Regions from separate parts of the Homo sapiens genome. Here region 1 is linked to region 2. A link means that fine-mapping ties the variant in region 2 to the expression of a gene that starts in the linked region. Tissue or cell type: cerebral cortex. Region 2 holds a variant in brackets; the other region holds the start of a gene. All regions are shown on one strand. Distances are between the middles of the regions.

The links. PIP is the estimated chance that this variant, and not a neighbour inherited with it, causes the effect.
Region 1: DCHS2 starts here. The variant in region 2 is fine-mapped to the expression of DCHS2 in cerebral cortex (GTEx, PIP 0.98). The same link has a PIP of 0.9 or more in prefrontal cortex.

The regions. Positions count from the first base shown.
Region 1 is chr4:154,488,432-154,496,603 of GRCh38, forward strand. It overlaps DCHS2 (dachsous cadherin-related 2), which reads right to left and starts at 3,368. Exons shown (of 20, transcript NM_001358235.2): 1 at 873-3,368. The coding sequence starts at 2,924. RefSeq lists enhancers at 1,196-2,152, 2,153-3,108, 2,577-2,716, 2,767-2,946, 3,749-3,798.
Region 2 is chr4:154,324,764-154,332,763 of GRCh38, forward strand. DCHS2 (dachsous cadherin-related 2) reads right to left here. Exons shown (of 20, transcript NM_001358235.2): 5 at 7,715-8,000; 6 at 4,760-4,947; 7 at 3,330-3,429. Among named protein-coding and RNA genes, the nearest start is that of DCHS2, 160 kb to the right of the region's middle. The variant G/A (reference allele first, on the strand shown) is at 4,871.

The sequences.
Region 1 (8,172 bases), 160 kb after region 2:
CAGTCTTCATCCAACCTTTGTAAGCTTCGAAGGAAGGTAGGAAAACATGTAAGAAGTCTCTGGAAAAGGTAACTCAAAACAGTGTCAGTGTATAAAGATATACACTTGGTCATTTTAAAAACTCACTTACGAGAACTACCTTATTCCCTAGGTTGCCTCATAAAGCTGTTAAAAAAATATATGAGACATTGCTGGGCGTGGTGGCTCACCCCTGTAATCCCAGCACTTTGGGAAGTTGAGGAGGGCAGATCACCTGAGGTCAGGAGTTCGAGACCAGCCTGGCAAACATGGTGAAACCCCATCTCCACTAAAAAAATACAGAAATTAGCCAGGTATGGTGGCAGGCAGGAGAATTGCTTGAGTCTGGGAAAAGGAGGTTGCAGTGAGCCGAGATTGAGCCACTGCACTCCAGCCTGGGCAACAGAGTGACACTCTGTTTGACAAAAATATATATATGTGTGTGTGTGTGTCTGTGTGTGTGTGTGTGTGTGTGTGTGTGTGTATACATGTATTTATATGATATGATGTGAGACATTGTCAGTTGGAAGAGGTCTGATTTAGAATGGGCAGTTCCTCCTGAACCTATTTAGGTGCATACATCCAGCAGGAAAGAAATCAGGCTTCAATAAGATAAATCAAGATCTAAAAGTCAAGTTGAAAGGACCTTAGAGATCATGTAGCCAAGACCCTGGCAAAAAAAAGTTAGGTGACTAGAGGGCATCATTCATCTCACTGTAGAGGGGGCACTACCGCCAGTCTTGTATTTGAGAGCCGGAATATTATCCTCCACATCACAATTTCCTAGGCCAACTCACAACCCTCTCCATCCCTTCCCAAGCCTTCAGGTTGGCCCACAGGCCTGATGCACTCACCTGCAGAAAGCAGTGTCCAACCGGGGCATGCTCTGCAATGGTGGCATTGTACACCTGCCTCCAGAAGATGGGCTCATTGTCATTCACATCATCTACGGTGATGCTCACCAGGCAGGTGGCAGAGAGTGGGGGCTCTCCGAGGTCCTGGGCCACCACTTTCAGCTCCACCGCCTCCTGGACCTCTCGGTCTAGAGTCCGGATAGTGCTGATCGCACCGCTTTCGGAATCAATGGCAAAAGATGGTCCACACTCTGCGGTGTGGACCATCTTTGATTGCAGGGAGCCGAGATTGCAGGGAGCCGAGAGTTGGACTACAGTGTAGCGCAGCCAGGCGTGATCACTGCCTGCCTCGTCGGCATCGGAGGCGCTGACCCACATGACTACAGTGCCAGGGGCCGCGGCCTCGGACACTGAGGCCTTGTAATGCTGTTGGCTGAAGAGAGGTGGTTGGTCATTGAGGTCAGCGACCCGGAGTAGCAGCGTCTCCTCCGTGCTCAGCGGCGGGGACCCCGCGTCCGTGGCCACCAGTAGTAACTCATACAGATCGCGGCTCTCTCTGTCCAGGGGCCCCTCCACGCAAAGGAAAAATACCCCTGGGGGGCCGCCGGGTAGCAACGCGAAGTCTCCCTCTCCGCCTTCCAAGGACAGAGAGATGCTCCCGTCTCCAAGACCCACACCAAGCTCCCCTGTGGCCTCATCTTCCTTCTCCCAGTCACCGTCCGCGTCAGACACCGAGACGCGAGCCACGTAGTCGCCCGGTCGGGCGCCTTCAGAGACACGGGCGACGCCTCCCTCTGTGAGAAAGAGCACGTGAATTGCTGGCCGGTTGTCATTCACGTCCAGCACGGCGATGGACACGCGCACCGTGGCAACCTCAGGCTCGGCGCCTCCATCGCGGGCCTCCACCACCAACTGGTGCCAGGCCTGTGCCTCGCGGTCCAGAGGTCTCCACACTCGCACCACGCCGCTCAGCTCCTCCACCGCGAAGTAGGCCGCGTCGCCCAGTGCCCCGCCGCCGCTACCCGCCCCAGGCACTTGCCGGGCGCGGACGCTGTAGCGCACGAAGCCATTGGGCCCCAGGTCGCGGTCGGTGGCGCGCACGCGACAGACCTCGGCGCCCGGCTGGGCGTCCTCGCGCACCGCGGCGCGGTACTCGTCCTGCTCAAAGACCGGCGGGTTGTCGTTCTCATCCAGCACGCGCAGCTCCACGCTCAGGAGGCCGGTGCGCCGGGGTCGGCCGCCGTCCCATGCCTCGATCTGCAGCCGGTGCGCCGCCGCCTCCTCTCGGTCCAAGCGCCGCAGCAGCACCAGATCTAGAGGCTCCAGGGGTGACGAGGAGCCTGGCAAAAGCGGTGACGGTAGTGGCCCCGGAGTCCGGTAGCGCAACTGGAAGAACGGGCCTGCGGGGTCCTTGGGCAGGTCGGACGGTTGCACCAGGGTGTAGCCCTGAGTGCTGAACAGTCCGGCGTCCGGATCGTGGGCAACTGGCAGGCGGAAGGCGGTCCCTGGCGGGCTGAGCTCGGAGACGTCGAGTTGCAGGGAGTCGAGGGGAAAGCGGGGCGAGTGGTCATTCACGTCGTTGACGCGAATCTCCACCTGCACCACAGCGCCCAGCAGCGTGGCGGCGACGAAGCTGTAGTGGTCCCGCCGCTCGCGGTCCAGGCGCCGCGCAGTGCGGATGATGCCGGTGTCCGGGTGCACGTGGAAGTCGTCCAGCAGCGGGGAGTCATCGGAGTCCTCCGACAGAAAGAAGCCGCTCCCCTCCTGCTGCTGCGCGGCCGGCAGCCCGGCGCGGATGTCACCTACCAGCGTGTCCGGGGGAAGCCCCTCATCTACGGAAAGGGTGAGGTTGAACAACTGGGCAGAGGAGCCCGAGGCCGCCCACAGCCACACGTGCACCAAGAGCCAGAGCAGGGAGCGCTGCGTCCTGGCGCCGCTGCTGCCTGACCGCCCATGGGGTGTATCTCTCCTCCCGGGGAGCAGAAGGAGCTTCCCGACCGGAGCCCGCCGCTGCTGACGCCCTTCGCCCATCTTCCGCCCACAAGGGCTCATTTCTCCTCCAGCTCCTTGGGAAGGCTCTCGGGTAACTGCCAGCTTGTGGCAGGATCGCAGAAAAATCCAGGAGCCTCTTCAGTGTCTGAGCCAGAGAAGAAAAGACTTTGTTTGGCAAACAAACCGACGGCCCAGGAATTCCCGAGGTTACATCTGCAACTGGTGAAAGCGTCCTCTGCCTGCAGCTCACGCAGACAGGGAAGTAAGCTCTAGCTGCCTCTGCCGCGGCAGCCACCTCTTCTGCCCCTGGATTTCTTTAAACGAATCTCATCTCTTTTTCTCTCTCCTTTTATTCCCTTTACATCTGTTCCTTGTTCTACTCGGCTGGTTGTTCCCCCCTGGTAAAGTCAGGTGCATTATTTCTTTTGCCAAAAAGGAGGAGATTATATGAAGCGCGCACACACAAGGAGAGGATGGGGATCTGGCCGGAGTAGGGGGTGGAGTAAGGGCGTGGAGGCAGGGAGTCAGGGCGCTGGGGAGGAGGGAGAGAGGGAGGGGGGAAGGGAGGTCTGCGGCCCTGTCCGCTGCTCCGGGGGCGGGGCGGTGGTTCCCCACTGTGTCTCCGGGCGCCAGGGACCGCGCGACTCCTGCTCCGACCCAGCCTCCGCCGCCTGCCTTCCCCTCCCTGCCGTGTGATGCGGCGCACACGAGGGCAAACTCCAACCTGCGAGCCGCGCTCTGCAGCAGGGCGGAAGAGGAGCAAATGCAAAAGCACTGGGAGACGTGCACCGCGGGGCGGGTGGGGGACGCGCAGGCGGGGCGTCTGCCTGGGCTTGGCCAAGTGCCAAGTGATGATGGGTGCGGGGAGGTGAGAGGAGCGGCCTCTCCGCGGCCTCCCCCTCCATCCGCTTGACCGTCCCTCTGCAGGCCTGACTCTTGGCTCGCGCTGAGCCAAGAGGGTAGAGGTTATCATCACTTTGGGGTGCCAAACTTGTGTTCTCCATTTGGCGAGAGGGACTCCCGTCCGCAGCGGAAGGACAGATGGAGTCAAAGGCCGATGCATAGCTGGGGCCAGGATGGCTTTAAAGGGGAGAAGGCGGAACTTGGAAAAGCCTTCCAGAAAACCCGAGAAATCTGTGGCACACATGGTGCAAACCACACTTTATTATGCGTGCTACTACCCAGCGACGTGTGAGCCTCTTGTCACTCCCCTCTGCCACCAGGAATGACGACAATATATCCGCCCTGAGAACCCTTTTTCTACATTCAGCGCCATCATAACACTTCCAGGATGTCTGACGATGCTGACTGATGAGCAGAAAGCCCTGGTGGCTGACACCCCGCAAGCCCTCAGCGCTCCCCCACCACCCCTAGGCAAGGAAGTGTGCAAGCGGGATAACTCTACGGATACCACTTTCAAAACTAGCTTCTGTCTGAGCCGAACGCAAATGCCAATAAATAGCCATAGTCGCAGATTTCCCTTCAATTAACTATAATAATCGGTAGAAACTGATCAATGGCCTCTAATAAAGTACGCCTGAGAAAAGACTCTCTGGACTCTTAAAAATGGCTGACCATATTTAGCAAGTGGTTTCTGCAATTTTGCATTTGGGCCTGAGAGAAGAATTAATTTCCTAGATACCGTTTCTCTCCTTTAGGGAGGACCAAAAGCCCTGCATAGTGGTTTCTTGCAGCAACAACAAAATGCCTTTTTAAATGTGCAACGGAGGTGTATGTAATTGCTAATCCACAGCCACACCGTTATCTCTACCTGTGACCAAATAACAATAAAATAATTGACTTTGTAGCATATATGTTACCGAAAATGGGGACATTATTAAAATAAATTCAGCTTTCTTTCCCCCAATGAACTCTCTTTAACCATTAAAGAGATTTGTTATGAGTCTTTAGAGTCTTTTTATCTTCAGTCTCTGCATTTGCACCCTAACTAGTCCCTCCCCTCCCACTCTTGCCCCTTTATAAGTAATTCTTTTCTGTTTTTGCTATTGTTGTTGTTGTTGCTGTTTTGTTTTCTGAGTCAGGATCTCACTCTGTCACCCAGGCTGGAGTGCGGTGGTGCAATCATGGCGCACTGCAACCTCATGGACTCAAGTGATTCCATCACCTCAGCTTCCAGAGTAGCTGGGACTATGGGTGCCCACCACTATACCTGGCAAATTTTATATTATTTTATTAATTTATTTGTTTATTTTTTTTACTTTTGTAGAGATGAGGTCTCACTATATTGCCCAGGCTCGTCTCGAACTCCTGGGGCCAGTCTTCCTGCCTAGGCCTCCCAAAGTGCTGGGATTACAGGCTTGAGCCACCGCAACCAGCCTATAAGTAATTCTTGAACAAGCATCTGGATTAATGTTTTTAAAGCTGTCTCAAATCATATTACCTCCTGCTTAGAACCTGAAATGATTCCATTATACTTAGATTATAATTCAGACTCCTTCAATCAAGCTCCTTTTAGTAGTACAGGATCCTATCCATCTTTCTGACCTTGCCTCATACCACCACTCTGGACTCAGCCATCTGCCTTCTTTTTGATCTTGTACCTTTGAATTGTTAGAACTTTCCATGCCTGGGAGTTCTTTTTTCTGCTTTGGAAAGAGCTAGCTCTTTCTCATTCAGGTCTCAACTCCAATGCCCTCTGTTAAGAAAGATCTTCCCTAATTACCCTATTTCAGATAGCCTTTCTACTATAAATGCTATATCCTTTCAGTATATTTCATTCACAACACCTATCAGCATCTGAAATCAACTTGCTTTTTTCATTTGTTTATTAGATTATTACAACCTCAAAACCTTCATTCTGCTTTATCTCAGCACCTAGAACAGTACCTAGCATGTAGTGTGTCTCTATTTACTAAGTATGTGTTGGACAGACGGTTGGTTGAACCTATGGGTAAGTGAATGCATTTGTCTGTTAAAGTAGAAGTTGGAAGCCATAACCAAGAATGAATTGGCCATGAGAATCTTCACTGTAATGAATTATGTCTTTGCAATCTTACTCATCTTAATTATTTCATAGGACTTCTTGAACTTATTTTTCAGCTTCGTCAACTTACTTTGTAAACCATTGTATTAGTCTGTTCTTGCATTGCTGTAAAGAACCTGAGACTGGGTAATTTATAAAGAAAAAATGTTTAATTGGCTCATGGTTCTGCAGGCTGTACAGGAAGCATGGTGGGATCAGTTTCTGGGGAGGCCTCAGGAAACTTACAATCATAGCAGAAAGTGAAGGGGAAGTAGGCAGGAGGAAGAAAATGAATGGGGAGGTGCTATACACTTTTAAACAAACACATCTCATGAGAACTCACTCACTCTCATGAGGACAGCATCAGGGAATGGTGCTAAAGCATTCATAAGAAACTGCCTCATGATCCAGTCACCTCCCACCAGGTCCCACCTCTAACACTGGGGATTACCATTCAACATGAGATTTGGGCAGGGACACAGATCCAAACCATATCAACCATATTGTTAACAAATATTTACTTGAGTCTAAAAATAAAGGAAAAGAAGCATCTTTTACTGCATCTTTCACTGACACATTCTTTGTAAACAGTGGTTTAGTTTAGAAACAGTGGAAAACAAATGGAAAATCAAGAACCTCAGACATCTATTTTCCTATTAGTTCTAAAGCTTTATATCTCCAGCATGTACAATTCAAGGTCTCCTGTCCATTTCACAATTACCCTTCATTGAATGTCCTGAATATCCTTAATTATAGAATTAAGAATTCAATTTTGTAAAGTAAGAGAAATAAGAGCATTTCTCAGATATGTGAAAAATAATTTTAGATAATACAGAAGCCAACAGCCTGCAAGAAATAGGTCAAGGTCTGATCCTTGTAAGCGAAGCATCATGGCGTAACTGGCCAGAGTTTTAGCTTTAAAGTTGGAAAATCCTTATTCTGCTCTATAATTTGGGGCAAGTTATTTAAATCTTAAGCCTTAGAGTTTCCTCCTTTCTAAATTGGGGATGATACATCTAATTTACAGGGATGTCATGGGCCTTAAATGAGGCAATATATGTGGATTGGTACCTAGAATGCATGTGGTAAATTGTATTTTTCTTGCCCTCTGGTGTTTGTATGATGAAATGTTTTAGGAGTGAATTATTTTGGAATTCTCAGTAATATCAAACTCCGACTTCTTAGCCCCCCAGAAGGTGTGAAGGGGGAGGATATAAAATTCCCACTATCTGGCTGGATGCAGTGGCTCATGCCTGTAATCCCAGCATTTTCAGAGGCCAAGGCAGGAGGATTGCTTGAGCCCGGGAAGTAAAAACCAGCCTAGGCAATGTGGCAAGACCTTCTCTCTACAAAAAAAAAAAAAAAAAAAAAAAATTTAAAAATAGCCAGGCACGCTGATGCATACCTGTAAGTCCCAGCTACTCAGGAGGCTGAGATGCCAGGATGGCTTGAACCCAAGACATTGAGCTGTGTCATTGCCACTGCACTCCAGCTTGGATGACAGAGCGAAAGCCCATCTCAAAAAAAAAAAAAAAAAATCCCCAGTATTGTAAACAGAAACTTGGACAAAAAGGCTCAAGGCATTTCTTCACTTTGTGTTATTCAGTTTAAGTAACACAGGAAGTCCCTCTTCAGAAACATTTTCCCTCAGACTGTAGGTAGCCCTCAGCTTTGTGATAGTTAATTTAAATAGTGTAGTTGCTAAGTGCTCAAAGCAGGGTTCAAATCACCTCACGTCAACCTTTTAGGAAAGGAGTTATAATTAGTATTCCCATCTTACAGATGAGGAAACTGAGGTTCAGGAGCATTGCAAGTCATGTGGCCAAAGTCCCACAGGTAGTAGAATTGGAACCTGAACCCAGTTTTGCTCCAGTGTCCACGGTGTTCACTGGTCATTTATTGTCTTCATGATTTTCTTTAATAAGATTGTCTTCTTCTGAATTCTTGATGAAATCAGTACAGTGATATAGTGAGTTTTGGGAAGACCTGGGAGAACTACAGAAGGAGGAACTTGTGAGCATGTTAGTGGGAGTGGTGGGGAGGCACAAGAGGATAGTCACATGTCAGTACTTGAAAATACAACCAAAAAAAAAAACCAACTCCGTACTTAGAAATGTACTTAGAAATGGTACTTAAAGGCCAGTAAGGAGAATCGGGTGACATGGAGGGTTTCTTCCCAACTTCTCACGCATGGGGATGGCCCTCTGAGGGTTAAGAAGGGTGCATGATACCAGGAAGCCCCCATACTCCCTTGACTCACATGCCATCTTTCTGAAAACGTTTGAGCCAAAGAGCGTTTGGAGCTTGTGATGGTTAAATGTGATG
Region 2 (8,000 bases):
AACTCATAGCATGGAGCAGGCAATTATGTAACATTTATTAGTTGTGATTTCTATGCTTTAATCCATTGATTTTGTTCTCACAGAAATACTATAGAATGCATTCATGAATATGATACATACCTTTATTCCCCTTATACCAATTTTCATCTCATTATTTTACCATATATTTTGTAGTTGCTTCTATTTTACTATCAGATAAAAAATAAAGATGGGAATAATGTAATATATATCTCCATATTTTTGTATTGACATGCCTCAATTATCATTTAAAAGCTAATTTATAAAAAAAGAATATTTCGATGAACACCAAAGTATCACTTCTTAGACTGATTAATTTTCAATATTTTTTCAATTTTTTCCAAGAAATGGCAGAGTATGAATAAAGGAGTGGATCTGTATATAGCTCCAAATCTCATTCCCCTCCTTTTTCCCCGTAGAAAGTCACTTTTATAACTGAAGTTGAGGTTTATCTTTGAAGTCCATACATCCATAAATAACATATGCCATGGCTTTGCTTGCTTTTAAATAGTGGTATTATAGCAGGATTATAGCCGTGTGTGTGTGTGTGTGTGTGTGTGTGTGTGTGTGTGTGTGTGTATTTTCCCTCTTCACAATCATTGTCCTTCACAGGTACACTATGTTGTCTTCTCCACCCCAAAATAAGACAGGAAAAAAAGATATAAAGATCTTATTGACCTAACTGACCTCATAGCCAGAGAAAGATTCTTGAATGCATACCTGCAAAGCCAGTTTTTCTCCCACCCAAGGACCAGATTAAAATAAGCTAAGACAACAAAAAGAGAAATTTGAGAAGTAACAAAAGGGAAGACAAAAAAAGAGGGGGAGAATGGGGAAAGAGTCTCTGAAGGAGGGGACAGCAGGAACACAGAGGAAGGGCTGTCTCCAAATGTGGATCTGCTGCAGGCTCACTACCTCTGTATAATCCACCATTCAAGTGTCCTGAGAACTTGGGAAGACATTTATAGGTAAATAAGTTCGGATGGTTTATATGGGCATAGAAACATCAGAGAAGAATTTGGCTCCCTGACCATGGAGGTATTGAGAAGAACTGCATATGTAACTTTTCCAAGGAAAAGCAATGCAATGAACTCAAAGCTGCTGTTTGCGTCAAATTCTTTTTATCTTCTGTAAAATCCTTGCCTTCCTTGCTTAACTTTGGATTCAATATTTATCCACACTGCCATGTATGAAATTCTATTGTATTCATTTTCATTGCTGTATAGTATTCCGTGAATATACCATATTATGCAGACAACTGAAACAATGCTTCAATGAATATCCTGTTACAGTCTCACTCTGCACATATAGAGTTCCTCTAGGGTAACAGAAGTAGAACTGCAAGGGTATAGCATAAGCACATCTCCAGTCTTATCAGATATTGCTTCATTGTTCTTCGAAGTCGTCACAACAAGGAGTCTGGGCATGCTTTAAAAACCTTTTTAATTATTCAGGCTTCTTTTCTTTGAGTTGTCTGTTAACATTCTTTGTCCAATTTTATTATTTATTTACTGGTTTTTCTTACTGGTTTGCAGGAGTTCTTAATAAATTCTGAATACTAATTTTGTATTGGTTACTGGACTATAATTATCTTTTCCCAACTTGTGACTTGAATAGTCACATTGTAAACAATGGCATATTTTGTAGTGTTTTCAATTTTCATTTAGTTTTATTTATCTATTTCTTTGTGAGCTTCTGCATTTCTTCTTGTTTAAACCGTCTTCTTTATTCTCAATGCCATATATATAACCAGTCTCATATTTTCTTTTGTAAGAGTTAAAGATTTCTACATTTAATAAGACTCATCTTTGATATGCTGAGAGTAGAGATATTTTTCCTTGTAGGTAACCGATCATATCAGCATCACGTATTGATAGTCCATCTTTTCCCCATTTATTTTCTACCCCCTCATATGTCAAGTTTCCGTACGTGTAAAGTGTGACCCCTACTCTTTTTAACTGGCCCATTTATTAATGAGTGAATCAATACAATAGTGTTTTAATTATGAAATTTTATAAATTAAGACTGGGTAAGGCCAACTTCCCACTTGTTATTTGGACATTGTCTTAGTTATTCCTTGTCTTTTGCTTTTCCACATGATGTTTAGAATCAGCTTGTCAAATTCTATCAAAGCCTCATTGAACATTTGATTGAAATCATACTGAATTAATAATGATATTTTTGTTAAGAATTGTAATCTTTAGGATATTGAGTCTTCCCAAGCATGAACATGATACAGCTTTTCATTTCATTCTTTTATGTCCTTCATTAATATTTTATATTTTTCTGTATGAAAGTCTTATACAAGTTATATTGGAATTTTTTCTATGCCCCTAATAGAGACAGATCCTATCTGTGTTGTTTTGAAGTTTGTACAGTTTGAGAGGCACTCCTTAAGAAAAATAAATTGTCCACTTCCCGCTCCCTGGGGAGGCTATGCAAGTAAAACACCGCAAAACTTAGCTTCATTAGTTTCACAGTAGATCTGCTCCTACCCCCTTTCATTTTCTTTGTGAATTCACCATAGTGAATGAGATCTTTGGAAACTGCTAAGTTTTAAAAATACCAGTGAGTTTCGTATGTTGACATTATTCTCAGAAAATTGGCTATTTTATTAATTCCAATGGGTTGCCTATAGCATCTCTTGGGTTTTCCATGCAGACAATCAAACTATCTGTGGGAAAGGGCAATGTTATCTCTTCTTTCCTATGTCCTATGTTTGTGTCAAACATGACAAAGCACCAAATGTCTTTTAAAATTATATAAAACACAATGCCAATTAAAGTAAATAACTGGAAAAAATCTGGGGCCTGCATGTTCCAACAGAAAACATAATAGTAAGCCCACTTCAATAAAATTTCCCCATACACACACGCATGTATACATGTGACATTTTCTAGGCATGATTTACTCTGACCTTACAAGTATTCAGTCTTCATAAAGATTTATAGATGCTTGGAACTCTTAGTCATACTTAATACCAATTCTTATCCCCTAACTAACACTTTCCTATCAATAAAAGTAAATTTGTACTTCACATTATTGCAAATTACTCACTAAAGATGAATGGTTTCTATTAAGAACGTAAAAAGCTACTCTGATTTTTTATTAAACTTTAAATTACTTTTCAAAAACTGAAAGTAGTTCTTGACAATAGCAAATGTATTTTGTTTGTAACTTGGTGCTTTTTCAAAACTAACTACAGCATTCAAAGTAATCAAAATAGAACTTCTTTTCCCAGAAGGGGATAGTTGATAAATGAAAGCAGAAATCCTAAAAGTTCTTAATCCCGTATGAACAGTAAGTTTTACCTGAAGATACTGAGTATGTAACTTCTGCATTATTTCCTTCATCAGGATCCTTTGCAAACACAGTTGTAACCAACATATTTACTGGTTGACCTTCCAGAACCTGCCATTAAAACAAACAGCTTACAAATGAGTCAGCAAAAGTTTAAAAAGAAATATCAGTGGACCTTTAAATGAATGAATACATTATACTAAACATTTTAAACTATCTTAAAATCCACATATAATTCAAATGCATACCATGTAAAAGTTATATGGGTGTATGTCCATGAAAAGAATCCTCCTTACATATTAAATCTTTTATTCAATTAGAATGAATTATCTGAGGCATCTGAACTAATTCTGACCAAAAGAAAAAGAAATTGAACTTGCTAAACAATCTTAGATTTTTGGTGTATTTTAAGATTTCTAGCATATTCTCATTCATCATCTCTTAGGACATTTTTTGAAAGGTGGTTGCTATGGCTTAAAATATGCTTAAAATAAGTATGAACCTTTAATTCAGAAAACAAAACTCATGCAGGACATACCAATTATCAGGAGCTGTCCTGCAATGTTGAAATGCACATGTGAAGTTCAACTACATGTTTAGAGTCCAACTGCCCAATTAAGCCACAGGACATTTTAATGATATGATTAAAAAGTGTAATGATGATATAATAATATTTTGCTTTGTTAGAATTTTTCTTTAAAGCTGGATTCAGATCAGTTTAAAGTTATGAGTTCCTCAATACTTTTGTTGAGTTGTTCAATATGTATATTTGAGCACAATTTGAATGTCTAATTCAATTGTTCTGGAACAGTAGCTTCTAAACTTTTCATTATTATAACCCATCCACTAAAAAAATTATTAGTAGGTCCAAACATATTTATTAATTATGTGAATGAACTGATATTCTAATTTATTATGTATATTATACAACATACAAAAAGACAAATGAAAAAGATGAGATAATATAAATATAATTGCCAGTTGGTGCATGTGATCAAAAGGATCAACTTTTACTATCTCTGGATTTCCACCTACCCACTTTAGAGCTACAGGTTGTTCCCCTACCCTTAAGTAACTATCTTAGAGACATGTATCAATTGCCGTTAAGAAGCTCTGCACAAAGAGATGCACGTAAACTACTGGAAAAACAAGCCATGTCTGAGCATTAACCTGAAGCACCATTCAGTTTGTGTACAAGGGGCTGAACTAAACTTATTGTTATAAAGCAACTGGAGGTACAATGCCAAAGAGCACATATATTCATTTACTTTTTAAAAATTTTCTTTTAAAATAACATGTGCACAGTATCTAGGTCTTCTAGAAAAAGTATGCTTTGCCACACCAAGACTGATGTGATAAATTCACAGGTTTTACCACAAGATGGTGCTCAAAACAAATGACTTAAGATATTACAAATTCATTGCAAGGTTTCTTCACAAACCTTCACGTGTAACTCCTTTCCAGGGAGACACTGGGGGAAGAAGGGCCTGTTATCATTGATGTCAGTAACTGAGACGTAAACCGCCATGGTGGCGTTTCGTGGTGGGGAGCC[G/A]CGGTCTGTCACTAGCACAGTCATCTCATGGTGCCCCCGGTGCTCACGATCCAGTGCCACCCAATTGATTAACTCTCCTGCAGAGTACAGAGCAGAACAAGACACAGGCACTGTGTACCAGGCGCACCAGGGCCAGAACCATTTCCAGAAGGAAAACCAAGTACAAAGCTTTGAGCAAATATGCGACTTCTAAGACCATCTACATAGTAGTTTGGCTCTATGGTACTGTTGAAAAAATTTTCTCAAGTTGCTCCTGAAAATGTCACTTTAAATTTGTTATTCTTTGTATTTCAAATTATCATCCATCGATCATTTGAACTAATAAACAATGAATTCATAAAAATGATAAAACTCCGTGGGAACTTAGTAATGATTTGGAAGATTTAAAACTGCTGCTTATCCCTCTTTATGCTGCTATACAGAATGATGGAAAGCATGTGAGCTCTGACACAGGTTCTGGCTTTGGCCCCAGTTTCCCCATCTCAGACATGGAATGACTCCTCTGAGCCTGGGACTGCTGTCAGGAAGAAATGTAATCACACATTTAAAAGTATTGTGCAAGCTATACATGACGACACAAGTGGAAGCTGTTATTACTACTTTAACATAATGGCTAAATACCTTTCTGGAAATCAAATAATATCCCTTAGGCAATAGTTCTTGTTTTATGCACACAAGTATTTGTTTTTTATCTCACAAAATATACATGTAGCAGTGGATAGTGACTTCCTATAAAAACTCTTAATGCTTTAGAAGCTTTATTTCAAATATTTCTGCCTAGAGCTATACTACCTTCAGTAACTTTCCTCATGTGTCAGCCATGCAGACCCAGGCATAACATCTAAGTGCCTCTTCCTATTGCCAGGGACCTTGGGAAGACAAGCACTCGGTCCAATAGCCTGTCAGAGCTCTGCCAAGCATTGATTTCCTCACCATTTATGAAAAAAAAATGTACCTGTGAGAATGTGAGCATGAAGCAGCTACCGACAAACATTTCTGTGGCTAAAAACTTTTTTCCTCTTAATACAAATAAAATAGCATTGCATTAAAAAAAAGTGGAAACAGGGAACAAAAATGAAAATTCTCATTTAGGTAAGTTGCTGAATTGGTGAGCTTAAATGCAGTGTTTATGATAACTGTTTACTGTTAATATATAAACTATATTTATAGTGTTTACTCGGTGGTTTTAATATAGATCATACACACAATTGCTTTTTTTAAATTCCAAACTATAATTCTCCTCCGAAGACCTTAACTTCTGAATGGCAAACAGATTTTTATTCATAAAGCAAATCTGATGGATAAGCAGCAGCCTTGGAGGTCGGGGATGTAAAAGACTGTGCAGCTCAGGCTGCAGCTGGGGATGGGCGACACCAGGATATGGTTCCACAGGAGCTCAAGTCCTGGTCACTTGTAGGACTGTCCAGAGAACTGGATGAAAAGGGGGTGTGTCTCCCAGGCTCTGAAGGACACCCTCCACCCTGCCTTGCCATGCTGTCCTTGGGAGGAGGAACAGTTTACAAGCACGTAGTGTTCCAAGCCCTTTCATATTCTTTAGCTCTTTACCCCTCAAAGCATGGCACAGGGCGTGTCAGGAATTGTCTCCTGTATTCATGGTAAGGAAGCAGCTCTGAGCTTAAGCTACTTGCTTAAAGCCATACAATGAAATTAGGAATGGACACCTCGTTTTCTTGTAGGGGAGGGAAGATCACGGGGGAATCAACTGTAGTTTGCTTATTTTAAAGAAAAAAACAAGTGAAATAGAAGACCTTGAAAACTAGCCATATGGAAGTAAAGTGCAAGCAGGGTCATCCCATATAGCTGTATGGTTTGTGCCCTTGCAGCAGGAGTCTCAGTTTAGGGAGTGAATGAGAGTGGAAAGGCAGCTTGCAACCTTCTTGGCAAGCCATGTGCCCTGTGAAAACCCTCCATCTGCTGTGAAAGGTCACCTTCTCCTAATTCACAGAACAGAGACTTGAGAACAAAGGCTTGAAGTTCATCAGAACTGAATGCAAAGTCTGTCCCACTAAAGGCAGCAGCACCATCTGCCCAGGTTATGACATAGATGGTGCCTGCTGGACCTGCACAAAAAGGGAGCTTCTTCTCATCTTACCAGCTCCATGACTTTGGGTGTACTACTCGAGCTATCTGAGTTTCAGTTTTCCCGGGTATGTATTTGCAGTATAGATATGTTTCATTGTAAGGATTAAATAAACTCCCCGTAAACTTATACAACATAAATTTTAAAATATAGTGACTTTTAATCTTTAATTTCTTAATTCAGACTTTAAAAATTTCACTGTAATTATTCCCCCTTTTCCTCTGGTTCCCCTGTCAGAATGAGAAAAAGGATATATATTCTTAGAGTGATTTTGAAATCTTAACCAATGAATTGATGTCTAGCTTTACATTGATGATATTTATATTTCACAAAATACGTTTTGACGTTTTTTAAATGTCTACAAATGGAAAAGGATGGTTGTTGAAAAAATTAGCCTTTACACAAGGATATATTCAATCCAGTTCTGACTATACCTCTAGTTCAGAAAAAGAACCATATATTGGCAAGATGGGGATGTGATGCAGGGAAAGTATGAATTATTATGGGTGAAACTCTATTCAATTTTTAATCCATTTTTAAGACCTCACAATAGAGTAATCGAATACCTTATTTATTAAAAACCATTATTTCAATTGCATGTATGCACTAATGCTATACCTAACGACTTGAGTTTTCTCAATCCTGATTTTGTTTAATTTTTTATTTTTATTTTTACTTAAAGACGAGTGTGATAGTACTGAACCCTCATTTTAAAGGAATAGGTGGAAACTATGAAGTGCTACCTGTATTAGGATTCATCTTGAAGAATTTTCCATCAGACAAAAGGAAATATAATAGCTGTCCATTCTTTCCAGAGTCCATGTCAATAGCTGTAATTTTGCCTATTACCCCTTGGGGAACAGGGCTCTCTTCGACTTTCAAAAACAACACATCATGCAAGAAGGTGGGGGAATTGTCATTCTCATCCCAGACACGAACAATGACTGTAGTGCTCACATTTTGCAAGAATCCGTCCTCGGGGATCCAAGCAAACACTCTAAAATTATATGTTTGGGTGGATTCATAGTC